Linked DNA regions of Homo sapiens: all the other regions are linked to region 2. The links come from fine-mapping of genetic effects on gene expression. A gene starts in region 2. Each other region holds a variant in brackets. All regions are shown on one strand. Distances are from middle to middle. Region 1 has its middle 8.0 kb from the start of NLRP6. Region 2 holds the start of TSPAN4 (tetraspanin 4). Region 3 overlaps TSPAN4 (tetraspanin 4). Region 4 overlaps CHID1 (chitinase domain containing 1).

Region 1 (8,000 bases), 570 kb after region 2:
TAACCCCAGCTACTTGGGAGGCTGAGGTGGGAGAATTGCTTGAGCCCTAGAGATTGAGGCTGTTGTAGGCCAAGGTCATGCTATTGCACTCCAGCCTGGGTGACAGCAAGACCCTTCCTCTAAAAACAAAACAAAACAAACAGAACAAAACAAAAAAAAACCTGTAAGATTTATATGGAAATGCAAAAGACTCAGAATAACCAACATGATACTGAAGAAGAACAAAGTCAGAGGACTGACGCTGCTCGGTTCAAGACTTACTGTAAAGCTACAGCAATCAGCATAGTGATATTGGCAAAAGACTGTACAGATAAATCAGTGGAACAGAATACAGAGCCCAGAATTGGCACACACAAATATAGTCAAGTGATCTGTGAAAAAGGAGCAAAGCCAATTCAAAGGAAAAGGATAGTCTTTTCAACAAATGATGCTGGAACAATTGGATAGTCTCATGAAAAACAAATAAAAAAATCTAAACACAGACTTTAAATGTTTCACAAAATTTAACTCAAATTATATCATAGACCCAAATGTTAAGTGCAAAACAACAAAACTTTTAGAAGATAGACCAAAGCATGGTGCATAAAAGAAACAATTGATAAGTGGGCTTCATTAAAATGTACAACTTCTGCCCTGGAATAGATAGTATTAAGAGAATGAGGAGACAAGCCACACACTGGGATAAAATATTTGCAAAACACATATTTGATAAAGGACTGTTATCCAAAATATACAAAGAATTATCTTTCTTTCTTTTTTCTTTGTTTTTTTCTTTTCTTTCTTTCTTTTTTTTTTTTTTAGAGACAAGGTCTTACTCTGTCGCCCAGGCTAGAGTGCAGTGGTGCGATCTTAGCTCACTGCAACCTCAAACTCCTGGGCTCAAGGGATCCTTCCCACTCAGCCTTCCAAGTAGCTAGAACTATAGGCATGCATCAACACATCTGGTTAATTTTTATTTATTTATTTAGAGACAAGGTCTCCCTATGTTGCCCAGGCTAGGGATGCTGTCCTTCTGCTCAATGGTGGGATGATATTTCAGTTCGAGGTGCAACAGTTACCAAATTTAGGTCCAAAATCCCTGAGAATCCTCAATGGAACCCATATAAATCTAAACAGCCTCATGACCCAGGGGCCACAGCTGCTTCCAGAAATCTTCAGTTCGGTTCAAAAGACAATGGCGATCTGTGTTCCGCTTCCGCAAAGGGACAGTACCAGGGTCTACCCATGTCACAGAGCACAGTTTTCCTTGAAGAAACCCTTTAGGCTTGTACCCTTCTGCACAGAGTCCTACACTCCGGACAGCAGCTGAAAATTCCCCCTCTGTTCCTGTCACTCATCGACAGCCCTTTGGTACTACACTGTCATCCGCTTCCTCTGTCCTTCTCCCCTGGGCCCCCAACATTCTGACCCCCCACACCTCTCTCCTCGATGCTAGCCCTCTCTCTCCTCTGCGCTCCTCTTGGGGGCGGCGCCGAAGACCCCGCCTCATCAACTCATCAACCTCTCCTTCTGGGACGATTCACCCCAGAGCCTTTGGGGGTCCCAAATGGAACCAAAAGTGGCAGGACCTGCTTGCTGCCAACCCGAGGTCCATCTTCCCCTCTTCTTACCGACAGAACCCTGTGTGTGTGGATCAGCAAAGTGCTTCCCCATAAAACTTTGCAGAAGGTGACCTTGGGACACAGTCTGGGCAATGAGGGGAAAGGGAGCCTGCTGGGTGGGCTTGGGTGGTGGGTGGAGCTGCCACGGCCGTTGGCTCTTGGCCTCCCTCCGTCTTTGTCCTCTTGGACATGGACACAAAACTTGGAGGTCCACGAGCAATGCCCAGGCCCAGGAGCCAGAGGAGATGACTCTGGCAGCTGGGAGGCCACCTCGGGGCTTTGTTCTGGGAGAACGACTCTCCTGTGGGTTTCGGTTTCATGCGGCCCAAGGCCTTCGTAACTCGTACACCTTGGACCTGTCTCCAAGGCCGCAGGTGGAAGGGCAACGTGCACTTGGCCCCACTTCTGACGCCTCCTTCCACAGCAATGCTCTCTGTGGCCCAATCTTCCACGAAAGCAAACTGTCCTCCAAGGCAGGTGCTGGGCGTCCAGTGCTCCTTAAGGAAGGTCTTTCCCTTCCCCACAGAGACCCAGAGAGAAAGCGCCTCCCCCATGAAGCTGCTGGTCAAATGCTCGTTCCATTGGGCACTCACTGTACCAGGAAACCTGCTAGAGCAGCCGAAGAAAGAAAGGTTCAAACTGGTCTCAAAAGTAAGACGGCCTCAACACGGAAGGGAACCTGGACACAGCTGCAACATGGACGGCCCTGAGGACATTGAATAAGCCAGACACAGAAGGACAAATGCTGTGTGTTAGCACTTACCTGAGGCCCCTAGAGCCTCCGACTCACAGAGAGAGTAGAACAGCAGGGGCCAGGGCTGTGGGAAGGGGATGGGAAATGGGTGTTTAATGGGGAGAGAGTCTCAGTTTGGGAAGATGAGAAAGCTCTGGAGAGGGACGATGGTGATGGGTGAACGATGTGAATGTACTTCATGCACACTTAGCAATGGTTAAAATGGTATATTTTATGTTATATAAATTTTACCACAATTTAAAAAATAAGACAAAAAAAGCCAGTGTATCCATAATCTGATTAATTATTAGCTCAAGTGTTTTCCCGAGATAGGTCAGGAAATCAAAGCCTCTGCTTGTTTCTTCAGGAAGGGCCCCTGGCAGGACCTTGAGAACAGCAATTGATCTGCCCCACCCTGGAGAACAGGGGCCGTAAAGTCTTATCAGGGTCATCATGCCACCAACCCTTGCCACCCTCGGAGAACAGGAGCCCGCAAGGTATCCATCCTGTATCCAATTCCCTCTCAGAGCTGAGCTGCTCAGAACGAAAGCTGTCCCCAAGTGTGGATTAATCGTGGCCGCTGGTGGCTGTGGGGTGTCCCTTCACCAGCCGGGGGCAGCCTCCCTCCCTGGCCCCCAGGCCCTGGTGGTCTTCACTGGGGAGGCAGGGCCTTGCCGCCAGGGCCTCCTGTTGGTGGGGCCTGGTGGAGGGGCATGAGTGGGACTCTCTTTCCAGAGGGGGCTGGGCCCCTCAGCCTCAGAGGCAGAACCCCCTCTTTTGCCTCATTAGGTGGATGAGAGGAGGTGCCTATCTTTGTGGAGCCCCAGGACCTGTCCCCTTTACTTCCAAGGACATAGAGGACAGGAGGCCTGGGAGGAGCAAAGAGCCAGAGGCAGAACTGCCTCCTGGGCATATGACGCTCTCCCTTGGGGCGGAAAATCCCTCTTGCCCTGCAGGGCAGGGGGCTCTCCCAGCTGCCAAGGCCATCAGGGTGGTGACATGGAAGCACTAGGGCCCTTCCTGCTGCACTTCGGGAGCCCACCAGGACCTGGGTCCCGCCTCCTCCTCATTACAGGCCCGGGGACCCTCTGCCTCCC[G/A]ATCCCCTGTGCTACAGTGGACCGAGCCCCTGCCCCGAGGGTCACACCGCTGCCTGCTGGGAAAGGCAGCTGGCCCCCGTCGGGCTGGCTCTCCCTGGTCCAGTGTGCCCTCCTGGGTAGTTCCTCCTCGCTCACCAGCACAGCTCTGGTGCACACACCCACAGCAGGTCCACACGGCTGCCACACCACCTCCCTTCTCTGCTCAAATGTCTCCTCTCCCGAGGCCTCTGACCACCTGCCTAAGGTACTCCCCAAGTTTACTCTCTTGTGCATTGGTGTCCAGAGGCGGTAAAGCCTGGGGGTCTGGGGTCCTGTGCACCCTGTTGAGTGGGTGGCTGGTCCAGCTCCTGGCTCTGCCACTCACTGGTCACTCTGTGACCCTGGACACACTCTAGGTGAGTTTCTGTGTCTGTGGATGGACGGTTCCTGCTCCCTAAGGTGGTTGTGATCTCAAAGTGGTGATATTAAAACACTAAGAGTCGGGCCTGAGTGGAGCGGGGCCTCCTCCTTCACATAAATCAACTGGAAATGGACCAAGGCTGACATTTAAGAACTAAAACCATAAAACACTTAGGAAAAAATGTAGGGAAATCTTCATGACCTTGGATGATGATGATGATGATTATTATTATTATTTTTTTTTTTTTGAGACGGAGTTTGCTCCATTACCCAGGCTGCATTGCAATGGCGCGATCCCGGCTCACTGCAACTTCCACCTCCTGTGTTCAAGCGATGCTCCTGCCTCAGCCTACCTAGTAGCTGAGATTACAGGCGCCTGCCACCATGCCCGGCTAATTTTTGTATTTTTAGTAGAGATGGGGTTTCACCATGTTGGCCAGGCTGGTCTCAAACTCCTGACCTCAAGTGATCCACCTGCCTCGGCCTCCCAAAGTGCTGCGATTACAGGCGTGAGCCACCGTGCCCGGCCGACCTTGGATTCTTAGATATAACACCAAAAGCATGGGCAATGACAACAACAACAAAAAGATAAATTGTACTTCATCAAAATTAAAATCTTTTGTGCATCAAAGGACACTATCAAGGGGCTGAAGAGATCACCACAGAATGGGAGAAAATGTTTGCGAATCATATATCTGGTAAGGATTCATATACGTAATATAAAAAGGACTCCTTCAAATCAACAACCAAAACCCAAACAGCACAATTTCAAAATGAGCAAAGGACTTGAATAGACATTTCTCAAAAAAAAAAAAAGATGCGAATGACTGACAAGCACGTGAAAAGTTGCCCAACCTCGTTAGTCATTACAAAAATGCAAATGAAAAGAACAGTGAGATACCTTCTTACCTCCACTAGGATGGCAATTATTATGCAACTAAACAAAACAAACATGAAGAAAACAAGTGATGGGAAGCCTCCCATGTTGCTGGTGGGACGGTAAAATGATGCAACTGTTGAAAACAGTTTGTTTTTTCTTAAAAGACGCGGAAGAATTGAAAACAGGAACTGAAACCACACTCGTGTTCACTTTGCTAGTAGCGTTATTCATAACAGTCAAAATGTGGAAGCAACCAAGTGTTCCTAAACAGGTGAACAGACAAACAAAACTCAGTCTATCCGTACAGAGAAATGCGATTCAGGAATGAGAGCCCGACGCATGGGTGAACCTTGGGCACATCACGCTGAGTGACATGAACCTGACACAGAAGGACACGTACTGTATGAATCCACTTCTATGAAATAATTAGAACAGGCAAATCCGTAGAGACTGAAAGTAGATGAGACACGTGACCAGAGGCTGGGGGGACGGAGGAATGCAGAGTTGCTGTTTAATGGGGACGGAGTTTCTGTCTGACGGATAGAAAGGATTTTGGAAATAGTGGTGATGGTTACACAATATTGTGCATGTAACTAACATCATTGAACTGCACACTTAAAAATGATTAAAACAAAAAGAGTTCTGTTACGTCTGATCCTTTGCCACGATTTTTAAATAGCGCCTGCCCCGTGGTCAGTGCCTCCTGTGTTGGCCGCAATGCTGTGCTCCTCACAGCTGGCGCTGACCGCTATTTCCTGCTCTAGGGCGGTAGGCGGCATCTGAGAGCATGAACAAAATGCCCTACCCAGAAGGAGCTACGTCTTTGTTGGGAGACAGAAAATAAACAGGATACATAAATAAACAACACATGGATTAAACAGTGCCAAGGGCGGGGCGCGGTGGCTCATATCTGTGATCCCAGCACTTTGGGAGGCAGAGGCGGGCGGATCACTTGAGGTCAGGAGTTCGAGATCAGCCTGGCCAACATGGTGAAACCCCGTCTCTACTAAAAATACAAAAATTAGCCAGGCGTGGTGGCGGGCATCTGTAATCCCAGCTACTCGTGAGGCTGAGGCAAGAAAATAGTTTGAACCCAGGAGGCAGAGATTGCAGTGAGCAGAGATCACGCCACTGCACTCCAGCCTGTGTGACAGAGCGAGACTGCGTCTCAAAAAACAAAAACAAAAAACAAACAAAAACAGTGCCAAGGACAGAGCAGAGCGGAGAGAGGAGAATAAACGAGGGGGCAGGTCCGCGGTGGGGACGCAGTCAGGTGCAGGGCAGGGCCGTGGTCTGGCAGGAGCTGGCCCACTCAGGACACAGGAGGCCTGGGTGGCTGGGAGAGCCAGGGGGGCCGAGGAGCGGGCAAGGCTCCCTGGGCTGCTGTGGGGCTGGGGAGGGTGTGAGGGAGGGAGACGTCCGGCTCTCCTGAGGGGAAGGGAATCAGAGAGGGGCCACGCTCTGCACATGCGTAAAAAGGGTGGATCCCATGTGGCGTGTGAGATGAGAAGGGCTGAGGCAAGAGGAGGGATGGAAGTGGGGAACTAGAGCGAGGAACAGGGTTTGCAGGTAACGCCCAAGGCCCAGGTATCCTAGTTTGAGAAGCCTATTTACCAGGGAGCTGGGATGGCCGGGACCAACCCGGGCAGCAGCCGTGCAGCCCCTCCTAGTCACCACCCCCAGCCCAAGGAGGGACAGGTGAGGACTTCAAAGGGCCAAGCCCTCCAGCGTCCTCATCAGAAGCTCAGGTGAGGGCACACAACGTGAATTTACCGTTGCACAGTGCAAGCTCCAGCAAGTGAGGCTCAGCAGTGCCCTTGCAGAAGGAAGTGTTTTCCCCCAGCCTTGTCCCCGCTGCGGTGATTCCCCTCAGGGCAAAAAATCACTCCCCGGAGGCTCCCGCAGTCCCCCAGAACCATTCACTGCCCCATCTCTTCCGGGTCCACCCCACGAAGCTTGATCCACTCTCTTCACCCTCCCGGCTCCCAAAACTGTCCAGGGACCCGTGGAATTTCAGGGTCTAACAGCAGCAAAGCACCTTTTGCTCTCAAACTTCTCTGAAGTTCATTCCGCCCTCGGGCTGGCACGATGTCCTGTCCAGCTCCTCCCGCCTCCTCCTCGCCCCTCCCCCTCCTCCCCTCCTCGCTCCTCCCCCCTCCTTGCTCCTCCCCCCTCCTCGTTGCTCCTCCCCTCTCCCTCCCCCTCCCCTCCCTCCTCGCCCCTCCCCCTCCTCCTCGCCCCCCCTCCTCCTCGCTCCTCCCCCCTCCTCGCTCCTCCCCCCTCCTCGCTCCTCCCCCCTCCTCGCTCCTCCCCCCTCCTCGCTCCTCCCCCTCCTCCTCGCTCCTCCCCCTCGCTCCTCCCCCTCCTCTTCGCTCCTCCCCCCTCCTCCTCACTTCTCCCCACTCCTCCTCGCTCCTTGCCCTTCCTCCTTGCTCCTCACTCCTCCTCCTTGCTCCTCACCCCTCCATGTGGGCTGGAGATTTGTCTGTTTTGCTCACTGACACTTCCCAAGCACCTAGAACAGGGCCTGGCACCCAGTGGGAGCAGCTGATGTTTCCCGAACAAGTGAGCCCAGTAACTTTCAAACAGGCAATGGAAGCGCCAGAGGGCTTCCCCCACTGGCATTATTTTAAATTTTATAGGCAATGACTGAATATGTTAATTTTAAGAAAATCTAATAGTATAAATATGTATGAAATAAAAAGTGAAAATGACCTTTCCCTCCATGAAAGTCACTGTTCTTTCCACAAAGAATCTCTGTGAATCATTTAGTGTGGTACCACAGACCAATTCTGGGGCAATTATACAGACATTCTGTGACGCTGATCTATTTGTGCCATTACCACACTGTCTATACTTATCACTATAGCTTGATAATAAGTCTGGGGTGTCAGTTCGCCACCTTTATTCTTGTTCATGTTCATGGCTGTCTTAGCTATTCTTGTCCTTCACATTTCTGCTTTCATCTTAGAATTAGCCTTTGAATTCCCACTAATGGAAAACCTGTTGGGATTTTGGTTGGAATTTTACTGAACCTATAGTTCCATTTGGGGAGAATAAAAATTGTCAAAGTAATCTATTTTAAAATTCATGAATATAATATAACCTACCAATTATTTAAGGCATTTAAAAAACATCTCTCTAGAATGTTTTATAGTTTTCTATGTAAATATTATGCCCATCTTACATTTGATATTTTTTATGCTTTTAAAAATATCATTTGTTTGGCCAGGTGCAGTGGCTCATGCCTGTAATCCCAGCACTTTGGGAGGCCAAGGCGGGTGGATCAT
Region 2 (8,000 bases):
GGCCCGCCAACACAAACAGCCTATGCTGTGGGCTTCCTGGCTGCCTCAGCCCCTGCGGGGCCCCAGTGCCCGTCCCAAGCCCTCACCCTGGGGGGTCCCAAGCAAGCTGGCACTCCCTCATGCACACAGAGGAGCAGGGACTGGGGGCTACATACAGAGTCTGGGTGGGACCAGGCCCCTCCCACCCAAACCTGAGCCCTGGAGGCTGGAGACACCACTCTGATACCCCCAGCAGCCCCAGGGGAGGGACAGATAGTCCAGAGGTCCCCCAGTCTTTCCTCCTGGGACCACCGAGGCTAACCCCACACTCCAGGCCTTCCCTGTAATCCTTTCCTGCACTGTTGGGTATTTATCTGCTGGGAGTCGGGGGTGAAGGCAACAGACTTAGGACCCTGGGTGGGGGGCACCTTCCCACACCCCCCAGGCTCCAGGAGCAGCCGCACCTCAGGTGCCATCCCACCACAGCCCTGGCCCTGGCCCCTGCAACCTAGACCCCTATAGAACAGTCTGGGGGGGCACATCAGGCCTGGGCAGCTGCATGGCAGGCAGTGACATTCCCAAATATCACCAGCCCCGACATATGAGTGGTGAGGCTAGGGTCAGTTCAGTCTCGGCCCCATCTACAGGCCCCACCGCTCACAGCGCCGGTCTCCCAGGACCGTAGAGAGGACCCGGCCCCATCTACAGGCCCCACTGCTCACAACGCCAGTCTCCCAGGACCGTAGAGAGGACACGGACGGCGTGGGTACGGTGGGCAGTGGCCTTGGCTGTGTGCACCGCTGAGGTGTCGGGCACGTGTGCTCGTGGCGCCGTGTGCACCCACCCCATCCCACAGCACCCTGGGGGTGAGCACACATCTGTCCCAGGCATGGACAGGGCCAGAGAGCACAGGTGTGGGGGCGAGGCTGGGGACAGACACCTTCAACACCCTCTCCCAGTCAAGGTCATGCCCAGCCTCAGCGGCAGGAGGGATGCAGCCCTCCGGGCGGGCAGTTTCTGATCCCACCTGAGCTTTACAGACAGGGAAACGTGGGCTGGGATCCCAGACCAGAGTGCAAGTTCAGCTGAATCCCAGCCAGGGCTCAGCCCGTGCTCCCCCTCCCAGCCCTCCTGGTCCCGTGGCTGGCCTGTTTCCAGGGCAACACCCAGGGTGGGAGGGGTCAGCAGCTAAAACTTCAATCATGGGTTTCCCCTGGTCCTTTGCCCTGAAGTGATCCCTCCTCTAGCAGGAAGCAGCCGGGGGAGCCCACCCTCTGCTCCCTGTGCCCTGCCCTGACCACAGGAGGCTCCACAACGCCCCCTTCTATAAAACCAGCGCCTCACCCTCCTGGCCCCATCCCAGACCCCCCCCCCCAGAAGCCAGGCCGAGTCTGCGCCAACACTCCACACCCAGGAGAGAGGGGCCCCCACCCGCCCCTGCTGGCGGGCACAGTGCCCTGCCCCGCCACCAGGCTCCCTCCCACCCCCGCTTGCCTGAGGAGGGCCAGGCCCAGGCTCCCCAGGGTCCTCAGGTAGAGCCCAGTCGGGACTGAGGACAGGCCTGGGCCCCCAGGGGCCTCCGCACATATGTGGTGGGGGCTCGGGGGAGATGCACAGAGCCTGAGGCTGGGGCAGTCTCCAGATCTCAGGGGCTCTGCTGGGAAATGGAGGGATAGGAAGCGCACACACTCGGAATTCCAAGAATGTCAGCTTGGCCCAAGCCAGGATTTGGAGAGCAGCTCACTCCCCACCACCCCTTGCTCTGAGTAAACAACTCCTGCAGGCAGGAACAGGGGCGGGACAGGCCCTGGACCCTCCTCCAAGAAGCCTCCAGGCCCCCACCCACTCCCCAGGGCCCACCCTGCTAACATCCGGGACCCCCCTGCCCCCCTCACCTCCACAGCCACCAGCAGCCTCGCAGCTGAACCTGGCTCTGACCCCAGGCCACCGTTACTCAGGGCCCCTGTCCTGCCCTTCTGCCCAGAGCAGGATGTGCGTCCACTCATCCTGGGGGGAGGGGGTCAGGGAAGGGAAGTGGCCTCGGCTCGTGGCTCCGCACGTGGCTGGGTGGGGTATGGCAAATGCCACTGGGGAAGCTGCCCAGGGCCCTGGCCAGGGTGGGAGCGGAAACCCCAAGCGTGCAGTGGATCTGGCTAGCACCACTCCGGACCCAGAAAACCCTTCGTCCTCCTCCTCTGCAACTAAGGCAGACGCAGCATTGCCCTGAGAAAGCGGCAGCTGATGCCTGGAACCCAACACAGGTCCCACCCCAGCCAGAAGCCCCAGGCCGGCAAACCAGCCCAGAGCCCCCCATGGGTGCCGCTTTGCGGCCCACCCACCCCCACAGCCCACCTCGCACCTCCAAGGAGCCTTCTTTGCCTCTCACTGCACACCGACCCCCCATTTCCTCACCCCCACCCCAGGGGCACAGCAAGAAGGGTGCTGGTGCCAGCCCCCCCGCACTCCATCCGAGAGACACGGGCTCCTCGTCCCTCGTCGTCCGTAGGCCCTGAGCTCCAGGGCAAGCCAGAGCTGAGGCCTTCAGGGGGTCCTGCCAGTGCAGCCTCCGGGAGTCTGCCCAGGGATCCCCTGTGCCGGGGTCTTCCAGGTTCAGCTCAAAAAGCACCTCTTCCACGACTCCCTCCCCGACCTCCCTCCCGGGTCCCCTCTCCCCGTGCTCAGAGGCGCGTCTGAGCGTCGGGAGCTCGGGACGGCGAGCAGCCAGCAGAGCCGGGACCCGGGAGGGCGCACCCCGACCCCATTCCCGGGAAAGAGCGGAAAGAACGCGGACAGGAGCCCGGGGCGGGGAGCTGCCGGCGGGGGCTGTAATTGCGCAGCTGAGGCCAGGGCGGCGCCCCTAGGGGCTGGGCCGCGTCCAGAATGGGACCCCCGAACTCAGCGCCGAGAGCCCCGGACACCCCGCGGGCAGAGGCCGAGGCGGAGGAACCCACTACTCGGCGCGGCCAGGAGGGGCGGCAGGAAGACCCGCCCCGGCCCCCGCCCGCCCTCTCCCCGAGCCCCCGCGCCGGACCCCACTTGTTGCTGCGTGTCGGCTCTGGGCTCGAACTCGCGCGCCCCGCTCGCGTCCGGCTCCAGCCGCTCCCGGTCGGACACCTCCGGCCACGGGACCCTGGCCGCACGCCCCCACAACCCCCAGGCGCAGTACCTGCGCCGCCGCCTCCCGCTCGCGCCGCCCGCTCCCGCCGCGCAGCTGTCAGTCAAGCGGACACGAGAAACGCGAACCGCCGCCGCAGCTTTACGGCCCTGCTCAGACGCCGTAGCGCCGGGATGCACCAAGACGGTGGGCGGGGGTGTGCGGTCTGCTGCTGCCGCGGCCGCGCGGGCCCGGGAGCCCCGGGACGCACAGGCCCAGGAGCCCCGGGACGCACGGGAAGCCCCTATCGCGGCGGAAACTGCGGCCAGCGGTGGCGGGGCCGGTGGAGGGACGGCCGGAACAGCGGAGAACGAGCGGAGCCGATTCTCCCGCAACAGTGGACGCGCCCGGGGCGGGGCCTGGGGGGGTTCTTCGCGTGCGGCCGGGCCGGGCCGGGCAGTCTGGGACGCGCCGCCGCCATGATCATCCCTGTACGCTGCTTCACTTGTGGCAAGATCGTCGGCAACAAGTGGGAGGCTTACCTGGGGCTGCTGCAGGCCGAGTACACCGAGGGGTGAGGCGCGGGCCGGGGCTAGGGGCTGAGTCCGCCGTGGGGCGCGGGCCGGGGCTGGGGGCTGAGTCCGCCCTGGGGTGCGCGCCGGGGCGGGAGGCGCAGCGCTGCCTGAGGCCAGCGCCCCATGAGCAGCTTCAGGCCCGGCTTCTCCAGCCCCGCTCTGTGATCTGCTTTCGGGAGAACCTTATCCCCTGAAGTCTGGGGAAGAGAACGGAGTTGGGCTTCAAACCAGTGGTGTCCTGGGGATTCTAGGTGGCCTGGCGGGTCGCAGGCGTCTTGTCACCCGCAGTAAAGCCCTTGGCCTCCGCCCTATTCCCATCTCTGCCCCCAGGCCCACCCCATGTCCTGCAAACCTCGCTGCAGGACGGGCGGGCGCGGCGGCTGACATCTGTAATCCCAGCAGTTTGGGAGGCCGAGGCGAGAGGCTTGCTTGAGCCCAGGAGGTCGAGACCAGCCTGGACAACCTGGGGAGACCCTGATCTCCAGAAATTTATTTTATTTTATTTTTCTTTTTTGAGACGGAGTCTCGCTCCGTCGCCCAGGTTGGAGTGCAGTGGCGCGATCTCGGCTCACTGCAACCCCCGCCTCCTGGGCTCCAGCAATTCTCCTGTCTCAGCCTCCCGAGTAGCTGGGACTACAGGCGTGTGCCACCACGCCCGGCTAATTTTTGTATTTTCAGTAGAGATGGGATTTCGCCATGTTGGCCAGGCTGGTCTGGAACTCCTGACCTCAGGTGATCCACCCGCCTCGACCTCCCAAAGTGCTGAGGTTACAGGCGTGAGCCACCGCGCCTGGCTCTATCTTTTTAATTCGCCGGACATGGCGGTGCACACCTGTGGTCCCAGCTACTTGGGAGGCTGAGACGAGAAAATCGCTTGAGTCTGGGAGGCAGGTGGAGGTTGCAGTGAGCCAAGATCACGCCACTGCACTCCAGCCTGGAAGAGAGAGTGAAACTCCGTCTCACGCACACACACACACAGAAAAAGAAATGCAGGGTAGACTTGCTGACCACCCTCATCAGGCTTTGTAGGGGAGGCGTCTTTCTCCTGTGCTTGTCCCTTGGTGCTGCTGTCACCACGGTGCCTGAGTCTTGGTGCCCCCGCTGGAGTCTGACCCTCGCCCACTGAGTCTTCGTCACATGTGAAGCCCTGGGCTTGTGTGCGCCAGCCTGCCATCGGCACTTGGTGCAGCTTGCTGGACAAACGAGGAAAGCGAGTGGGCTGCTAGACTGAGTGGCTGGCGGCCTGTCCAGACCCTTTCCCCGGATAGGAACGGCAGGGGCCTCCCATGTGGCCTCCCCTTTCCCAAGCTTCTGTGTCTCTGCACATTGGAGCCATCGGTGTGGGAGTTTTCTGGAGGTCTTGAGGGTGACTGGAGCTAGGTCCCAGGGAAATGAAAGCTTCTAATTGGCTTGGGAAGTGGGAGAGGTGGCTCCGTGGAGAAGCAGTCTCTCTCTGATGGAAGGAAGCAGAGGTGAGGAAAGACCCCACAGCGGCAGAGCAGGGCTTGCTCTGGCTGGGGTGGGGGTGAACCAGCTAAGGGCAGGCCCCTGGAGAGCTACCCTGCCGTGGCCAGTGCTGGATGAGGTGGCTGCACATCAGCACCTTGGTGGTCTTGGTTTTCTAAGCTCCCCGCAATTACTTCGTTTTCATTTCATTTACATTTCTTACATACGTTATACACACACACGTACAGCCAGAGTAGGTGGGAGAGGAGGCTCCTCACGCTCCACCCAGGGTTCTGGGCATTTCCAGGTTACTCCAGCCAGGATCATACTGCTAGATCTCAGCTTCTGAGCCGGGTGAATCTGTTCGCCTTGCCGGTGGCGGGGGGGGTGAGGCCAGCAGGCAGTGAGAGGCAGGTTGGATGTGGGCTCCAGGCCTTTGCAGACCGTAGAGAACTCAGTTGGCCTCTGCTCCTCCCCTCGACACAGGGATGCGCTGGATGCCCTGGGCCTGAAGCGCTACTGCTGCCGCCGGATGCTGCTGGCCCACGTGGACCTGATCGAGAAGCTGCTCAATTATGCACCCCTGGAGAAGTGACCACGCTGGAACCCACCCACCCGCTGTGCTGACCATGGGCCCTGAGCGTCCTGCCCCGAATTCACGAGGCTGAGGCATCCGGGAGCTGGCGTAATGCCTGGCCGCAGTGTGTGTGTATCCGATACCCCACTCTGGAAGGAACCATCCAGTAAAGGTCTTTCAGAACCACTAAGGTCCCAGCCCTCACTAGGATGTCAGGAGCCAGGTCTAGGCCCAGCTTTCACACTGTGGCAGCCCAGTGAAGCAGACTGGGCCATGAACTCTCCTAGCCCTGGGGCCAGCCTGTTCCACAGGCACCCCTGCAGGAGGCGCTGCCAGGAGAGCCTTCCATCTCGGGGCTCTTTGAGGTTCCCTCCTTCTGGGTGTTCTTCAGGCTGAGCAGAGAGGCTCCTGTACCCTCTCTCTCGGAATCTGAAGAGCCAGATTTAGGCCGGGCAAAGGGGCTCACCCCTATAATCCCAGGACTTTGGGAGGCCAAGGCAGGAGGATCACTTGAGTCCAGAAATTCAAGACCCGCCTGGGCATCATAATGAGACCCCATCTCTACAACAAAATTTAATAAATTAGCTGGGCACAGTGTTCACACCTGTAGTCCCGGCCACTCGGGGCTGAGGCAGGAGGATCACTGGAACCTGGGAGGTTGCCACTGCAGTGAACTGTGTTTGCACCACTGCACTCCAGCCTGGGCAACAGAGTAAGACTCTGTCTCAACACAACTATGAAAAAGAAGAGAGAAACAGATTTTCTGGGGCCCAGTCTCTGCTGTGGTCAGGGCTGCCAGTACCTGCTGGCCTCTGCCCACTGCTGCCTGTCCCTGAGCGTCCCACCCAAGCCCAGCAGGGAGGGCAGGCCTTAAGACGCTCCTAGCTGGGTTGGGAGGTGGCCCTAAGGAGGCCCTGCTGTCCAGGCAGTGCTGCCAGCAAGCACCCCAGGTCAGATGTCCCTGCTGCCCAGATATCTGGCGTGGTGTCCTCTGGTAGGGGAGAACGGGTCTGCCTGAGGGTCTACAGTTCTGAGCCTTAAGGACAGGAACCTGGGCAGTGGGGGGCACAATCAGTGACCGAGCCCTGGCTCCCATCTCCAGGGTACCTCTGCCAGACACCAGGCTCTGGTACCTCCTACCCTCTGGCCCCCAGCAGGGCCTATAGGCTCCTCCATGTAAACCCCCTCACCCTACTGCCCCCACCCCACCTGCCTGACACCTCTTACCTGGGCACGGCCCCCAGTCTGCACCCTTCCCACGTCTGCTCCCCACCATGGCCAGAAGGGTTTTGGAAACCATTTTTCCTCTCCCCCAGGGGCTCTGAACACACCATCTCACCATTTAGGAACATGTTCAGTTCTTTCTGCTGAGGCCTGTGCTCAGCTGTCCCTGGCATCAGACCTCCCTTCCCTGGAGCCCCATGGGGGGTGTGTCCTCCTGGCTCTGCCCTTCTTTGTCCTGACACTGGGCGGGGCGGGGGTGGGTCTGTCTGCCCTGCTGGATGCGAGGGCCCTGAGAACAGACCACCATCTGTTACCAGCACAGCGAGCTCGTCCATCTGCTCTACAAGTGTTTATTGAGCACCTGTATGTGGCAGGGATGGTTGTAGGCATCTGGGTACAGCAGTGAACAAAACCAGGAAGGCCCTGCCCCGCAGAGGCACATGAACAGGGCAGTGCACAGTGACCACGTGGCATTTCGGGTGGTGGTGACTGCGGTGGGGAAGACAGCAGGGGCGCTGTCGAGGGAGACGAGGGCTGGGTTGGGAGGGGCAGAGGCCCAGGCCCAAGGGTCAGAGCTCACCTGGCTTCCCCAACTGGGATGGGGCCATGTGGCTGCAAGGCAAGGCCCCAGTTCCTGAAGGGCCTGGGGTGTGAAGGGTTTCTCCCCCTGCTGGGAACGCTCGGCCTTGCGCCACTCAGCAAGGCCCCTTCCAACCTGCATCTGACCACCAGGCAGAGAGTGTGTCTGGGGAGCCCCACAAAACACCCCCCAAACTTCGCCCCGCCAGCCCCCCTCACCTCCCCTGCTGGGCATTGGTGCGCAGCAAAAGGCACTTGAAGCTGCCTCTGAGGTTGGGGTCCCCAGAGGTTATGGTGATGGCACAGGGTGGGTGTCATCAGGGAGCCCAGCCCCTGGTACTCAGTGGTCTCAGCTCAGTAGTTGGGTGCAGCAGCAGCAAGGCCCAAGGCAGGGTCAGTAGTGCTCCAGCTTGAGACTCCTGTACAGGCAGCACGTGAAGATCATGCCAAAGACCTGTGTGCAGAGCCGGGTGGGCGTAAGCAGACGTCATGGGGCCACCAGCCACCGCCCTGCCCCGTGTCCCCA
Region 3 (8,000 bases), 24 kb before region 2:
GACGGGTCTGCTGCAGTCCTCAGTCGGGGGTCCTGGGCACCATGTGACTCCCCATCCTCCCATGAGGGGTCCCTGCCCTGGATGAGTCCTAGCTGGGGGACACCCTGAGAGCTCGAGCCCCTCCCACCCGGGCATCCGCTGGCTGCCTCCTGTCAGCTGGGCAGGCGGGGCCCACAGTACCTGCCCCACCAGGACAGCCTGGCTCAGGCCTTTCTGGGCTGCTTCTCACATCCTGGGCTGGATGTGGGTTTGGAAGCTCTGGAACCATCCCGGACTCGCCCACTCCTGGATTCGAGGGCCCTCGCAGGGACAGCTCTGCCCAGCATCACCCCAGGGCCTGGCAGTGATAGAGCTGAGAGCTCCACCCCCACATACCTGCCACCCACCTGGCCAGCCACAGCACGTGTGTCACCTGCAGAGAGCCACCCAGACGTCCCCACCGAGTCCAGCACGGCAAGGGTGCAGGGGCTGCCCTAGAAATGGGCTCAGAGGAGCCTGGCCCACCCTCTTGAAACTGGTCCTGGACCTTGGCTCAGCTCTGCCGCCTCAGGTAGCACGACCCCCAGGCCAGCCTGGACACATCAGGGAGCATGGTGAGGGGCAACGGCAGGACCCGTGGGCCATATCGGGACAGGCATTTCCAGCGAGGGGTGGGGCAGAGGACATGTGGCTGGCAGGCTACACCCACCCTGCCATGCAGCGGTGTCCAGGCTCTGGGGAGGCCCTGGGGAATTTGGAGGCATCATGAGCCAAGGCCTGGTGGCCCTCGTTCCCCTGCCCCTCGTCACCATCCTGTCCTTGGCTGGCCGTGAGGACTCCCCTCCTCACCACTGGGTCCCACAGGGCTGAGGTGGGCAGTAGAGGGCATAGGTGGGTACATGTCCCGGGCAAGGTCTCTCGGGGGGACAGAAGTGAGTCCAGGGAGTGGGTGGGCCTGGGCGTCCCTCACTCAGAATGCCGTGGGGTGAGGACGGTGAGGACAGGGTGGGCACTGGGTTCTGGTTTAGAGTCAGTAATGTTAGGGCGCAGTGGGCAGGGGGTCAGGACATCTCCAGCCGGTGGTGAGGAAGCATGGTGGGGTCTCCTCCACAGGACGGGAGCTGGGGAGGGGGTCCTGGGTCGGACCCAAGGCACCCACACTTGAGAAAGCCTCCGCCTGGACGTCAGGGAGGCCTGCGAGCTGCCACAGTGCAGGTGCAGCCGTTCCCACCGCCCTGCTGCTGCTTGACACGGGCATAGGAGATACAAGTGGTGTGTGCGGCGGTTCATGCCTGTAATCCCAGTACTTTGGAAAGCCGTGGCGGGAGGAACGCTGGGCAACATGGTGAAACCCCGTCTCTACCCCCTAAAAATAGAAAAATTAGCAAGACATGGTGGCATGTGCCTGTACTCCTGGCTACTCAGGAGGCTGAGATGGGAGGATCGCTTGATGAGGTTGAGGCTGCAGTGAGCTGTGACCGACTGCACTCCAAAAACCTTGTCTAAAAAAACACAAGCTGCCACTGGCTTTGGGGCACTGACCTTGTCTCCCCAGAGGTGCTGACGCTAACATTCAAGTTGTTCTCGGGGGTCCTGTGGCTTCTGTTGGAGTGAGGGTGGGGGACACGCAGGTCTGGGAGGGTGGTGTGGGCCTGGAGCTAGGCATTGCCAGATCAGCATTGGGTGGAGGCAGGGGTGGGGATGCCACACAGGATGGGATGTCTAGAGCGGGCTGTGTCTCCCGGGGGGATGGGCAGAGGGTGGGGCAGGAATTAGCTGGAAATGAGATTGTGGGGTGCAGTTTGGGGATCAGATGCCCCAACCTGAACTGACCGTCATCCCTGTGGCCAGGGTCCCCACACAACCCTCACCCCTGGCTGTGAGAATCCTGAGGCACCTTGATGCATTTTTTTTCATGCCCTGTGACAGGTGCTTTGTGCTGCCAGCTCACTTAAAGGGGCAGAGTTCTAGGAACAAAATAGGGGAAAAGCACAGCCCCGCCTCGACAGCAGGCCCCAGGGTAGGGGGCGATGTGGAGGGAGGCCCGCCTCAGGAGGAGCCCCCGGGGTGGGGGGGTGAAGCAGAGGGAGGCCACCCCTAGCAAAGGCTGGCAGTTCAGGGACGGCCCCCCAGGGGCCTTGGCACTTTATTTTTTATTACTTTTTTTTTTTTTTTTTTTGAGATGGACTCTTCCTGTGTCATCCAGGCTAGAGTGCAGTGGTGCGATCTCGGCTCGTTGCAACCTCCATCTCCTGGAATCAAGCGATTCTCCTGCCTCAGCCTCCCAAGTAGCTGGAATTACAGGCGCCCGCCACCACGCCCGGCTAATTTTTTATTTTTAGTAGAGACAGGGTTTCACCATGTTGGCCAGGCTGGTCTCAAACTCCTGACCTCAGGTTATCCACCCACTTTGGCCTCCCAAAGCCGAAGGGATTACAGGTGTGAGTCACTGCACCCGGCCTCATCACTTCTTAGAGCTAATGTCATGATTTCCTTAAAACCAGAGGTCTGGAGACTGCTCTGCAGGCAGCTCCCCCAAGCCTGTGCACCAGGTGACCCCACAGCCCCAGGGCTCTGCCTAAGCACCGTTCATGCCAGAGGCTGCCCTGCCCCAGGCCTGGGTGCCAGAAGGGAAGATAGGGTAGGGAAGGCAGACGAGCAATAGACGCAAGGTTGCTGCTCACACTTTATTAAGATGCACCAGGAGCCCCACGGGCCCACTATGGAATGTAGGTGAGGGGTCCACGGCCCCGCCTGGAGCACCAGGACCAGTGGGGCCACCTCCAGGATGCCAAGACCCGGCTCCTCCAGCGCCAACCTGTTTTCCAGGAGGCTGGGGGCCACAGGCTGGCTCCCGTGTGAACACTGCTTTGGAGAATACGTAAATATAAAAAGTGCTGGAGGCCCCTCCCACCCCTGCCCTGGGTTCCGCAGCCAGCACGTGGCCACCCCTCCCAGGGGGGGTCCGGAGGCCCTGAAGCCACCTGAGCTAGGGCCTTCCAGAAACAGGGTTCCGGGGGCTCCAGGCACCTGTCCCTCCCTCCCTCCTCCCAGCATGGGGCAGAGCACCGAGGCTGGTGGTGGGAAAGGCAGCTGTGGGTGCGGCCATCTCCCCGTGGGCGTCCTTTTGGCAGAGAAGCGGGCGGTGGGCGGCCTACGCGCAGTAGGTGTCTGCCTTGACCACTTGGCAGTACATGGTCATGGCGAAGGTCAGGCCCAGGATCTGTAGGTAGGGGAGGAGGACTGGGCATGGCAGCTCCACAGGCTCAGGCCTCAAGCCCAGAGCAGTCCCTGTCCTCAGCAGGTGCCCTGGCCCTGACCCCGACCCCAGGGTGGGCGACACAGTGGCAGAGCCCTTCAGCTTCCTGGTGGCTTGCACGCCCCACCCAACCCCTGTGGCTCGAGCCACAGCACCCTCCCCTGAGCCTTGCAGGCATGAGGACACCCAGAACTTCCTGAGGGCTGTGGAGTTTGGAAACCAGGGGCCACTGGCACCAGGGCCCCAGCTGCCACCCTCTGTGCACTGGCCAGTCCTGGGCCACCGACCAACATGGACGACCACCGGCCTCCACCCCACACCAGCCTCTGCCTCTGTCCACTAAGAGGGAGCCCACTGTCCCCACAGGCCGTCCCTGCCCATCCCCCTGAACT[C/T]GCCCTCCTGCTTTTGCCCCGGCCTCCCCCGATCGTGGGTTCCTGGGGGCAAGGTCTTTGCTACTTTGTTCCCTGGGCTCAGAAGGTCCTAACAAAGTGGGGGCAGGGAGCCCGCAGGCCCCCAGGCCATACCTGCACCAGCGCCGTGCACAGCCCAAAGATGCCCACAGCCAGCAGGTTCTCCTGAAGCCACACCTTCACCGTCTCGTAGCACGGCTGCAGGGAGGGATGTCATGCGTGTCACGGCAGGGCCTGCTGGTCCCGCCCTCTAGGCCCCTACCAGCCCCCAGGGTGGGGGTCTCACTCACCGCCTTCCACCAGGTGCCGGGGGCGTGCAGCCCACAGCTCTCACTGAACTCCAAGCAGCAGGAGTCAGGTACCCGCGTGGCGTTGTACACCTCGAACCAGTCAGTGTAGTTGGAGACGCCACAGCAGCGGAACTGGGGGGCAAGCTCAGGTCGGGCTGAGGCAGGAGGGGAGGGGGCACCCGCCGACCCCGCCCACCTGCCCACGCCTCACGTCGGTCTGGATGATGCTCCAGGCGTTGGTGAGGCCCACGTTGCCCTGCGTGCCGTACAGGTGCAAGCCTTTCTTCAGGTCTTGCTGGGCATACCTGTCAATCTGGGGGTGCGGGGGGGGTCAGCAGGGCCCCTCCCACTGTACCCCGCCTCCCTCATCCAGACCCCCTCGCCGGCCCCTAAGCTGGGCCCCTCCTGCGCCTGGTCTTGTGTCCCCCGCGCCTCCTAGCCCACCAAGCTGCAGACACACCGGCCCCATGTCCTCCCAGCAGCCCTGAGGCCCAGGGCCCCCACCTCTGGGCTTCCTCCCCAGGCTGGGGGAGGACCATGGGTCCTGGGGGGACAGAGGACAGGGACACAGGTGCCTCCACGTATCGGGACACGTGCAGCCATGCTCTGTGAGCTGAAAGCCAGGGGCTATGAGCGCTGAGCCCACCCAGCACCCTGGCCTCGGTCCCCAATATTCAGTGAGGACCCAGAGCACCCTGGAGAAGGGGCTGATTCCTGGGCCAGGGCAGGGAATGAAGGAGCCTGGAGCGCCCTGCAGTGCCAGGAAGTCAGGACGTGCCCCAAAATGAAAAGTCTGTTGATGGGGGCACGTCAGGGGACCCAGCAGCAGACGGCAGAAGCTCCCCAGGGCCAAGGACGGACAGTGTGATTCACAAAACAAAGTAGTGTGTTCTAGCTCGGAGTGCAACCTCAATAGCCAGGACTTCATCCCAGTATAAACAAATGGCTGAATATATGAGTGAGTGACCAAGAAGAGGCCGCTCTACAGAGGAGAACCCCACGGTGCGCGGCCCGGATGGGGCGCTGGGAGCAGACGGCTCAGGACGCTGCGTCAGAGGGCGGGGGACAACCTGGGGCGCACCCTCCGGGTGGGGTAGCAGTGCCCTTGTGCCCCAGTCGCTATAGAGCCACAGCACAGCCTCCCAGGGTCGCTGGCGCTGCCCCTCCAGGCCTGGTAAATCCACACCCGCTGTCCTGGCTGCCCGTGAGGGCACATGCAGGGCCACTCTGTCCACACCGGGCCCACAGTGCTCCCTGGGAGTGAGGATGGAGCCCCCAGCCCTGCAGTTGGGCCTGCGGCCAAGGCAGCCGTACCTTGTCCGTGTAGGCGAAGAAGAGGATGGCGATGGTGGCCTCCAGCAGGAACACCAGCAGCAGCAGCAGGAAGAACTGTGGAGGGGGCAGGCTCAGACAGGGACCCGAAAGGCCGCACAGCCTCCGCCCCACAGCATGCCAGGGGCCAGGGCCACGTACCTCATGGATACCTGGTGCTGCCAGGAAACCTCTGCCAGGCCCCCACTCCCAGAGAGCCCAGAACGCCGCCCCCACCTCAGAACCCTTGGCCCCAGGTCCAGGGACTGTGGCTGTTGTGTCCTGCTCAGCCCCTGAGTGTGGGGCCCTGGGCTGGCCTGGGCTCCCCTCCCCTGCCCCCATCCCTGGGGCAACCCAGACACCCCCAAGTGGGCACAAATCCCTGTTCCTGAGGCCCCAGCCCCTGTCAGCTGCCTTCAGGACACCTCCATCCAGGGGCCTCTGAGTGTCTGGCAGGTGCCTCGCTGGGTGCCTGTCTTCATGGTGGGAAGATGTCCCAGCAGGGGCCACAGCTGGGCTGCAGAGGCCCCTTCTGCCCACACGTCACAGTCCTCAGGGCAGCCAGCGTGGCTGATGCCCCCTCCAGCAAGACCACAGGCTGCAAGCCCCACCTCTGACCATGCAAGCTTCCCCCGCCTGGCGGCAGCCCCAAAGCTCAGCCTGACCCCAGCCCTGCTGCTCCTCCATGCGGGGGTCAGTGACACCCACAAAAGAGGAGGGCAGGCATGGACAGCATGTGTCCAGGAGCTGGGGGGCCCAGGCAGAGTGGGCGTGAGTGGGGCAGACAGGGTGCTGGGCTAAGGACACAGGAGTCCTTCACCCCCAGGAGGTACCCAGGGTTCTGGTCCCAAGTCACCCATGGGAAAGGGGGTTGGGCTTCGGTCCCTGCAGGCCTGGTGGGGCCCACACACAGCAGCTTCCTCAACTGAGGAGCTCCAAGCCCCAGTAGGGCTGCCACAGACCCCCACCGACTGCCTCCAGGGGTCTCTGGGCCCCAACCTGATGCCAGGGAGGCTGATAGACTTGGGGCTTGCCCCCAGGAAGGGGTACGGAGGGGAGTGGACTGGCTGAGGCGACCTAAGGGAGGCCCCAACCCATCCAGGGCTTCCCAGACAAAGGAGTGATCGGAAGCCTCGTGATTTAGGACCTCAGCAGGCTGCACACCCTCCGCAGGGCCCACGGCCTCGGCCAGGCATGTTAATCAGTAGCAAGCCTGTGTTTCCATCTAGGAGCCCTTTTCCTTTTTAATTATCTGTGATTAACATTTCTAAGGAGGATAAACATATCCCTGCCTGTAAGTCCATCCCCGAGGCGAGGTGGGGGCTGGGATCGTCCCAGCAGCCGGTCCCAGGGAGCTGAGAGACCAGGCCCCCAACAAGAAGCTGGGGAAGGGGCCACAGTGGGGGTGGGGTGGTCAGGAATGAGTCACGGAGACCGCAAGCCCGTGAAAGGCTGCGCATGCGTGTGTACGTGTGTGCGGGGCTGTGCCTGCACTCACCAGGGCCAGTGTCCCGTCAGGGGAGGCCCCTGACAAGGTACAGCACGTTCTCTTGAGTGACCCCCACACCGCTCTGCAAATCACCCCCCAGCCCCAGTGTGGCCTGGAAGACCCAACAGTGGCCAGGGCCCCGGGCCACACTGCCAGCCTGGAGGTCCGGCCCCAGAGGTGGTGCCCACGTCTGGGGGGTCACTGCGGCAGCCAAGGCCTGGGGGCCACCGGAGCCCCACCCTGCGTGGTCCCACCCGGAGCATCGCTTGGGCCCCGGCACTCACAGTGAGCAGGAGGCACTTGTTCTCCTTGATGGCACCCAGGCAGCCCACGAAGCCGATGGCCATGACAAAGGCGCCGGTGATGATGAGCAAGTTGGCAGCCGACAGGGACGGGAAGGAAGAGGACAGCGTGGCGAAGCTCCCCTGTGTGGCGGCCAGCCAGATGCCGACACCCAGCACGCCACAGCCTCCCAGCTGGGGCACAGCAACAGGAGAGACACAGACAGGGTGAGGCCCCAATGCAAGCTCTGGACCCCAGGGCAGAGCCCGGCCCACAAGCCCAAAGCCATGCCGCCTGCCAGCCTGAGCCAGAACCACCCAGAGTCCTGCTAGATCCCACGGCAGCCCGGGGGGGTGTCCAGGGCAGGCCAGTCTTTCCCGACACCCTGGGCTGGCACCCCATCCCCAAACCCACACTCCATGGCCACAGTCGGGGAGGCTCCCTTGTGCCTCTGAACCACTCCCTCTAGGAGGGATCCGCCCAACCCCTGGCCTGGAGCCAAAGGGACGGGATCTTAGGCCCCAGGACGCAGTCTGCACACCCCTAACCCCGCTTCACCGTCTGGTCTGCGCAGGGCAGAAGGCTCACTCCCCACCTGACAGGCCACTCCAGCCTTTCCAGACTGTGCTGTCAGGGAGACCCAGCCCTGCCCTCACTCCGGGATGGGGCTTCCTGGCAGGTGGTCCCAGGATTCCGATTCCCAGCTCCCGACAAGATCTCTGTGATGTCCCCAGCTGTCCCCTGTCACTCGTGGCAGGAGAAACGCTGATTCCCTCACACTCTGCTCCTGGTTATGATTTCTTTCTTTTTTTCTTTTTTTGGAGATGGAGTCTCACCCTGTTGCTCAGGCTGGAGTGCAGTGGCACCATCTGGGCTCACTGCAACCTCCTCCGCCTCCCAGGTTCAAGTGATTCTCCTGCCTCAGCCTCCCAAGTAGCTGGGATTACAGGCATGCCCCCACCACACCCGGTTAATTTTTT
Region 4 (8,000 bases), 59 kb before region 2:
GCTGGAGAAGGTAAGGGTGGCCTGGGGACTTGAGGTGACTGTACTGGCTGAGGGCTGATCCATCATCCTCTTCTTTCTGTCCACTGGGGCCTGTGAGCCAGGAGGCTCGAGGGGCTTGGCTCCTCACAAAGGCACCTGATGAGCCCGCAGCCGGTGGGTGGCCTGTGTGGCTCTGGGGCTCTGGCCAGTCAGCACCTCTGAGTGAGCAGCCTCTGGAGCCAGGTTTTGAGGGCAAGCAGGGTGCCTCCCCACTCACCCCACGTGGGGCTTGTTTTATGTGCCAGTTGCCAGTTTCCATGCTCTACCTCTCGTTTATATCACCTGCATCTTCATCTTGCTGTCTTTATCATGGCCTTGAGCTGTGTTTGCCTCATGCTTTTTGGGACGTTCCCCTGGGATGGCCCTGGGGATTGCACCTTCAAGGGTGTAAACTCATAGAACCACCTCTCAGCCCCAGCAGTCCCCATGCCGCTGGCCAGACCCTGCCACAGGACTGTAACTGTGACCTAGTCCTGGACTGGCAGATGCTTTCTCTGTGCTGTATGGGGGCAAATAAACCATGCAGTGGACATCTCTCTCTCACGGGGCCGCTTGGGGCGAGGTCAAGGGGAGGCTGAGCCGGGCCACAGAGTGTGGACAGAAGAGACAAGTTGATAACTGGATGGAAGGTTTCCAGGAGCAGAGGTGGAGTAGGGGCAGGTGTGACATGGCAGGAAAAGACTCGCATTGGCCAGGGGGGTGGCAGGCAGTGGTTGACCAGCAGGGTTGCATTGGTGGGGGTGGTGGCAGGCAGTGGTTGGCCAGTAGGGTCGTATTGGCGGGGGCGGTGGCAGGCAGTGGTTGGCCAGCAGGGTCACGTTGGCGGGGGCGGTGGCAGGCAGTGGTTGGCCAGCATGGTGGCGTGTGCCTGGCATGTTCTTTTCTTTTTTTTTTTGAGGTGAAGTTTTGCTCTTGTTGCCCAGGCTGGAGCGCAATGGCGCGATCTTGGCTCACCGCAACCTCTGCCACCCAGGTTCAAGCGATTCTCCTGCTTCAGCCTCCCGAGTAGCTGGGACTACAGGTGCCCGCCACCATGCCTGGCTAATTTTTGCATATTTAGTAGAGATGGGGTTTCACCATGTTGACCAGGCTGGTCTCCAACTCCTGATCTCAGGTGATCCACCTGCCTCGGCCTCCCAAAGTTCTGGGATTACAGGCGTGAGCCAATGCACCCAGCGCACCTGGCATGTTCTTGTCCAGCAAAGCGTATGGCCCTGGAGTGCCCGGATGGGTATCGAGTGGCCAGAGCTGGTGCAGACCGTCCACCCTCACATGCAAGGAGGGAGCCACCATAACTGTCTGTCTGCCTGCCTGCCTTCCAGCCCGGAGCAAGGGTGGGAAAGGCCCTGTACCGTCGGCCAGTGTCTGTTGACGGCCAGAGTGCTTCTGAATTGAATTGCCTGCTGTGGCCTCGATCCTCAACATACAGGGTCTCCGGGTCAGCAGCACTGTGTGGATCCAGAGACTCGGCTGCTGGCTGAATGGAAGGGACTTGCTGGGTGGGGCTCTGTGCTCTACACTGTGGACAGATGACTGAGGCTTTTCTCTCACTCCTTTTATTTCAGAGTCAGTTTTCAGATAAGCCGGTGCAAGACCGGGGTTTGGTGGTGACGGACCTCAAAGCTGAGAGTGTGGTTCTTGAGCATCGCAGCTACTGCTCGGCAAAGGCCCGGGACAGACACTTTGCTGGGGATGTACTGGGCTATGTCACTCCAGTAAGTTGGGGCCCTCACAGTGCAGAGGGAGGTCCTGAGGCTCAGGTGGGCTGCCCTGGCCCCGTGATGGCCTCTTCTGGCCAGTCAGTGATGGGGGTCTATGTTCTGATCTCCCGGAGCTGCTGCTGCTGTGAGGCTACGGTGGGAGAGATGCCATTCTGGAGATGTCAGAGTGTAAGACCCTGGGGGTCTCTCCAGGGGCTTGCTGTGCTGATCTCTGTGGGTTCCCCCTGAATCCAGAGGTGGGCTCGCAGGTCGTCTGGGGTCAGGAAGTGGATGTGCAGAGCCAACCCTGGGCCAGGGAGGGGTGGGTTCTCACACCCAGCCTCCTCTTCTCTTGCTGTTCCCAGCTGCCAGCCTGCAGCAGTGGTGTGCACTAGCTCCAGGTGGGGCTTAAGACAAGCACCAGTCACTTTTGGTGAAAGGGATGTCGTGGCCTGGGTCCCAGGCTGTGAGTGGCAGTCCAGAGTAGGAGAAGGATACCCCAGGCCAGGAGCTGATGTCAGTCCGGGCTGGTATCTGTCTACGCTGGCCAGCCCTGGGCACGTCCAGAGGCGCCAGAATGACAGCACCATGGTGAGACAGGTGCTCACTCACCTGTCCTCCGTCTGATGTCTCCATCTTTTGCCAGTGGAACAGCCATGGCTACGATGTCACCAAGGTCTTTGGGAGCAAGTTCACACAGATCTCACCCGTCTGGCTGCAGCTGAAGAGACGTGGCCGTGAGATGTTTGAGGTCACGGGCCTCCACGACGTGGACCAAGGTTCTCATCCTTCCTGCTTGACTGTGCTTGCCCCACAGGCTGAAAAGAGTGTGAGTGCGAGAGCAGGGGTGTGTGTGTGTGAGTAGGTATGTCTCTGTGGGTGTCTCTGTATGGGAGTGTGTGTGTGTCTCTGCGTGATTTAAGTGTGAATGTGAGTGTGTAAGTGTGAGACTGATGATGTGGGAGAGAAGAGATTGTGAGTGTGTTGAATGTGACTGTCGGTGTGGACATGTCTAAGTGTGAGACAGTGGGTGTGAGTGTTGAGTGTGGTGACTGTGAGAACCACGCCCTCACCCCTTGGGGCCCAGCCGGCAGAGCAGGCCCATGGTGTGGGCTGGTGTGCTAAGTGGGAAGGTGAGTGTGGAGCAGGGCAGGCCTGGTAGAGGGGGTTTCTGAGGTGGTCGCCACGGTGGGACCCTCTGCAAGGCCAAGTTGGTGCCTCAGAGTGTTCCGCCCAGGTCTGCGTGTGGTCCAGGTGGCTGTGAGGGTGGCCTTCCCTTGCACTTCCGGGCTGCACACAGGCGTGTGCAGGACAGGCTCTACAATGACTCAGGCAGCCTCTGGGCAGCAAACGGCACGGGCCATTGGCTTCTCCTCCTCTGTCCCTCTCTCAGCGATTTTCATTCAATGCCAGGGAGGAAGGTGGGGTTCAGGCGGAGGCTGCCTCCTGATGGCACATCCTGACCTGATGACGTCTGCCCGAGTTTACGTGGCTGCGCCTTGCGTTTGGGCTCGGACAGAGAGAAATGGCAGGGGAAGTGTTAGGCAGTTTTGGAGTTCAGAGAGCAGGAGTGGTTTTCCCTGACACTGAGAGAACCGTGGGGAGGTGATGGAATGTCAGCCAGTGTCAGGGCCTGGCGGGTCTGGCCATCCCTCAGCTCGGAGAAACCCTGACCGTCCCCAGGCCCTAGGATGCAGCTGCCTGTTCCCCTGGCCGGCCACAGGCTCTGAGCTGTCCCAGCTCAGGGAGGGTAAGCTCAGAGCTGCTCTGCAGGGTCAGGAAGGGGGCCTTGGCCAGAAGGGTGGAGAGTTGGGGTCAGGAAGAGGGTGTGGAGAGCCAGCCCTGGGCCAGGGAGGGGTGGGTTCTCACACCTGCCTGCCCGCCCCTGCCCTTCCCATTGCGTATTGTGCGGCTGCCACGTTTTCCTCCTCAGGTAGGCTGGGTCTTCCAGTTGGGCGCACGTGCCTGTGTTGACTGTCCCCTCCATGTCCCACAGGGTGGATGCGAGCTGTCAGGAAGCATGCCAAGGGCCTGCACATAGGTAAGTGCGGCAGGCCAGGAGTGGAGGCCCTGATGGCTCAAACTGCGGGGGTGGACAGGTGGGCACTGGGGTCTCCACGTGTTCCTGATCACCCGGCTGTGCTGCTGCGGCACAGGTTACTTTGAC[C/T]GCTCAGAGATGAGGCTGGCCCTGGCCTGGCATTCACAGCCCTTAGTCTGGCTGGAGTCCTGAGCTCTCCTCCCCACACAGGCTGTGGCCCTCCAAAGCCAGCACCTCCTTGGCCAGTGGCATTGCCCTAATTGTTCTCAATCCCATTTCTTCCTTCATTCACATGATGAGTCCTATCAGGGCAGCTGGGGCCAAGCCCTGGGCTTGGCCTGAGGGTGATGCTGACCCTGGCCCATCTGTGCCCCTGTAGCTCACGGCTGGGGAAGGGGGGACATGTGTCCCCACGTCCAGTAGCAGCCTCAGAGGCAGTGGATTAAGAGCACAAGTTGCCAAGGGAGAGACTCTGGGGGATGCTAGAAGCAGGTGACAGGGCTGAGCTGGAGCAGCCAGAGTCTGTCCCAGCCTCCCTCCTGTAAGGTGGGGCCACAACCATGCTGAGCCGTGTGGGGAGCTGGTGTCAGGGGACCAGGACTGTCAGTGTCTGCTCGCTCCTTCCCCACCACCCCTCCCTCTCCAGCCTGTGAGGCTCTGGGACATCCTCTCTGGACATGTGGGTGCTCCAGGTGGCCTCCCTGCCCCTCACTGTCTGGTCTCACTTCCCTCTGGAGGCCAAGGGGATGCCTTTTTGAGGCAGCAAACAGCAGGGGCCCTCCAGCATCTCCCAGTCACGGCCCCCGTGTGTGTCTGTTGCCCCTGCAGTGCCTCGGCTCCTGTTTGAGGACTGGACTTACGATGATTTCCGGAACGTCTTAGACAGTGAGGATGAGATAGAGGAGCTGAGCAAGACCGTGGTCCAGGTGGCAAAGGTGAGACCTGTGTGCTGCTCCAGCCTCTGAGCACAGCCCCCCGGGTCCCACCTGGCCGTCTGGCTGGGCCTCCCGCGAGGCCTCCACTCGGCTTTTCTGTCTTCTGCCCTGGGCACCTTCTGGTGCAGCCCCCATCTTCCAGGGAAGGCAGCATCAGCCAGGCTCAGGCTGCTGCTCGCTTTCTTGACCATGGGTCCTCTGGAGGTCCCAGGCATGGGAGACCTGTCTGCTGGGCCAGGGTTCTTCCCTTGGGCAAAGCCCAGCTGCCTGCTACCCTCCTGGGAGGGGACCCAGCCCTGCTGGCTGCCAGTATGCCTGGGCCTCGGGTCAGGGAGCCCCCAGACCCCCGGGGTGGGGTTGGGGGAGGTGCATGGGTCGGCAGAATGCACGAGACCACTGGCCCCTCCACTCCTGTTCCTCTGGGACCCCCACACTTCCTCCTTCAGACAGGCCCTTCTGGGCATACAGCCCAGGCTTGGGTCTTGCCTCGTGAGTGACCAGGCCACAACCTGACCATGTGGGCCGAGGTGGCGGGCTTCTTGTCTTTCCACCCATCCCTCCTGGGCCTCCAGGCCCTCCTCACCTGTGACTGCTTCTTTCAGAACCAGCATTTCGATGGCTTCGTGGTGGAGGTCTGGAACCAGCTGCTAAGCCAGAAGCGCGTGTGAGTGGGCACAGGTGGTGGTGGGTGGCCCTCCTCCTGGCCCTGGTGTTTGAAGGAGGCTGGAGGAAAGACCAGGGGTTTGGGGAGGGCCTTCCTTCCACAGTCCCTGTGCCTGGGGTGGGGACGGGGCTGCACAAAAGATGGACACCTGCTCAGAGAAGTGGAAGCAGCCTGTGGCAGGCAGCCGGCTCCGAACAGAAAAGTGGAAGCAGCCTGTGGCAGGCAGCCGGCTCCGAGCGCATTGCTGCGCCAGGCCTGATGCCTCCCTTGGGCGGTCAGAGGAACTCGAGGACCCTCATTCATGAGGTCTTGGCAAGAGAAAGATGGCCCAGATGGTGACAGCAGGTTGAGCTTGGACACAAGCAGAAACTCCTCACTGAGCTTCGGGGAGCCTTCCTGGGGGTGTCCCTGAGCACGGCCAGGACCCGTGGTGTGGACCGCCATGGCGGCCTCTGGGGAATGCCTCCCAGGCCCCCAGGCTTTGTAGCAGTCCACTCCACCGGGAGGCGGCCACAGCACTCCCTCACGCCTCCTTTTGCCACATCAGAGCCCAGCCCACCCATGACCCTCGCGGGTTCCCACTCCCTGTGGGCCACATGACCAGGAACGGAGGGAGTGATAGGAAGTGCCATGGCTCCCCCACCTGGCCTGGACTGGACTGACCACAGCCCTGAGGAATGGCCCTTCCTTGGTCCTGCCCAAGCAGCCCTGCCAACTCACCGAAACAGCTACCTTCCCTGTTCTGCCAAAGTGGGCGACTGCCCCGCAAAAGATAGCAGGGGGACAGTACTGCTCCCCAGGATGTTGGTAGGGGGCGTCCTCGACATGCTCAGGACAGGTGGACTCCTCTCACTCCACTGGTTGCAACGAGCGAGGATGGTGCGGTCTCCACCGCGGGTGCCTGGACAGCAGAGCCCTATGGCAGCTGTCCAGCCCTTCAGCCTTCTGTGTGAGCCGTGGGTTCTGGAATCGGCTCCCCCGCCCCCACCACCTGAAGTAGTTCTGGTTGGGCTTTAAGAGCCCGGGCCTGAGCTCAGGCTGCATGGTGTCCCCTGCAGCAGCCATGGCACTTTCATCCCATTGCTGCTGTGGGCAAAGGAGCTGCAGGTCCAGGCTCTGCCCACCTGGGGCAGCGTCCCCACACAGATCTTAAGCTTGAGGGAGGGAAGGGACATTGTTGAGGCAGAGCCCATGAGGGGTAGGGCAGGATTCCTGCCCAGGGGCTCAGAGGACCCTCAGCCTGGAGCCGGTACAGGCCCTGCCCCTGTGAGTGGCTCCAGCCTCTGCAGCCCTGCCGCTCCTCCCACTGTGCTCTGAGGGACTCACTGGCTGGGAGGCAGCAGTCCAAGGCTCTTCCCGGAACTGCTCCCAGGCCCCGGCTCCAGAAGAGCCCTGGAGTCCTGTTTCCTGGTGTCCAGACCCCCACACCCTCCGCCAGCACCCCTCAGTGTGGTTCCCCACTGGATCCTGGTGCCCAGATCCCCACACCCTCCGCCAGCACCCCTCAATGTGGTTGCCCACTGGATCCTGGTGCCCAGACCCCACTCCCTCAGCCAGCACCCCTCAGTGTGCCCCCCACCGGATGTGTCCAAGAGGCTCCTCTGTCTGCTTCCCTCCTGGGAGGCCTGGCAGCAGCAGGAAGACAAGGAGCTGTGTGAAGGGAGGCTGGGAGGCGCACTGCAGTGGGGGTAAGGATGTCCGCAAGGCTATGGGGAGCCTGTCGTCTGCACAGCCTCTGAGGGGCCCCAGCTTTGCCGGAGGATCAGGTGCCTGCGTTCCTGGCTGAGGGACAATCCCAGGCCCTGCCTTGGGGGGTTCTTGCTGAGCCGTGGGCAGTGGACCCTGCCGGGGCTGACCTTCCATTACCCTCTGAGGAGAGGGGTGTCTCAGCAGGAGACAGAGCCCGCCTGCTTCCAGCCTTCTCACTAATCCTGGGAGAGTGGGTCTATTAACCAGAGATTTGCCACACTCATTTCCGTTTCAGAGCATTAGGTAGGCAGTGAGATGGCACCAGAGGCTCCTCAGGAGATAGCCTCTTGTCTGGGGTGGAGGCTGGAGGTGCTGAGACAGCCTCGTGTCTGGGGTGGAGGCTGGGGGTGCTGAGACAGGCTCGTGTCTGGGGTGGAGGCTGGGGGTGCTGAGACAGGCTCGTGTCTGGGGTGGAGGCTGGGGGTGCTGAGACAGGCTCGTGTCGGGGTGGAGGCTGGGGGTGCTGAGACAGGCTCGTGTCTGGGGTGGAGGCTGCAGGTGCTGAGACAGGCTCGTGTCTGGGGTGGAGGCTGCAGGTGCTGAGACAGGCTCGTTGTGTCGGGTGGAGGCTGGGGGTGCTGAGACAGGCTCGTGTCTGGGATGGAGGCTGGGGGTGCTGAGACAGGCTCGTTGTGTCTGGGGTGGAGGCTGGGGGTGCTGAGACAGGCTCGTGTCTGGGGTGGAGGCTGGGGGTGCTGAGACAGGCTCGTGTCTGGGGTGGAGTCTGGGGGCCCTGAGACAGCTTAGTTTCTGTGGTGGAGGCTGGGGGCCCTGAGACAGGCTCATTGTGTCTGGGGTGGAGGCTGGGGGCACTGAGACAGCCACACGTCTGGGGTGGAGGCTAGGGGTGCTGAGACAGCCTCACGTCTGGGGTG

What was found.
Region 1: its variant is fine-mapped to the expression of TSPAN4 in nucleus accumbens (GTEx, PIP 0.96).
Region 3: its variant is fine-mapped to the expression of TSPAN4 in whole blood (TOPMed, PIP above 0.99).
Region 4: its variant is fine-mapped to the expression of TSPAN4 in nucleus accumbens (GTEx, PIP 0.99).

The regions. Positions count from the first base shown.
Region 1 is chr11:266,401-274,400 of GRCh38, reverse strand. No RefSeq gene overlaps it. Among named protein-coding and RNA genes, the nearest start is that of NLRP6, 8.0 kb to the left of the region's middle. RefSeq lists an enhancer at 4,852-4,921. The variant G/A (reference allele first, on the strand shown) is at 3,432.
Region 2 is chr11:838,061-846,060 of GRCh38, reverse strand. TSPAN4 (tetraspanin 4) reads right to left here and starts at 3,209. Exons shown (of 9, transcript NM_003271.5): 1 at 3,146-3,209. It overlaps CD151 (CD151 molecule (Raph blood group)), which reads right to left. Exons shown (of 9, transcript NM_004357.5): 9 at 7,230-7,928. The coding sequence ends at 7,869. It overlaps POLR2L (RNA polymerase II, I and III subunit L), which reads left to right and starts at 3,532. Exons shown (of 2, transcript NM_021128.5): 1 at 3,532-3,647; 2 at 5,581-6,340. The coding sequence starts at 3,553. The coding sequence ends at 5,689. RefSeq lists silencers at 2,537-2,705, 2,691-2,920, 2,941-3,030, 3,141-3,770, 5,999-6,048 and enhancers at 3,039-3,782, 3,783-4,528, 4,529-5,273, 7,101-8,000.
Region 3 is chr11:861,764-869,763 of GRCh38, reverse strand. It overlaps TSPAN4 (tetraspanin 4), which reads right to left. Exons shown (of 9, transcript NM_003271.5): 4 at 7,023-7,214; 5 at 5,253-5,327; 6 at 4,150-4,251; 7 at 3,939-4,070; 8 at 3,763-3,846; 9 at 2,653-3,202. The coding sequence ends at 3,134. It overlaps CHID1 (chitinase domain containing 1), which reads left to right. Exons shown (of 13, transcript NM_023947.4): 13 at 1-1,905. Among named protein-coding and RNA genes, the nearest start is that of TSPAN4, 23 kb to the right of the region's middle. RefSeq lists enhancers at 3,368-3,901, 5,502-6,035. The variant C/T (reference allele first, on the strand shown) is at 3,631.
Region 4 is chr11:896,716-904,715 of GRCh38, reverse strand. It overlaps CHID1 (chitinase domain containing 1), which reads left to right. Exons shown (of 13, transcript NM_023947.4): 2 at 1-10; 3 at 1,605-1,754; 4 at 2,386-2,518; 5 at 3,736-3,780; 6 at 4,606-4,712; 7 at 5,315-5,376. Among named protein-coding and RNA genes, the nearest start is that of CHID1, 10 kb to the left of the region's middle. RefSeq lists a silencer at 1,126-1,296 and an enhancer at 6,596-7,106. The variant C/T (reference allele first, on the strand shown) is at 3,907.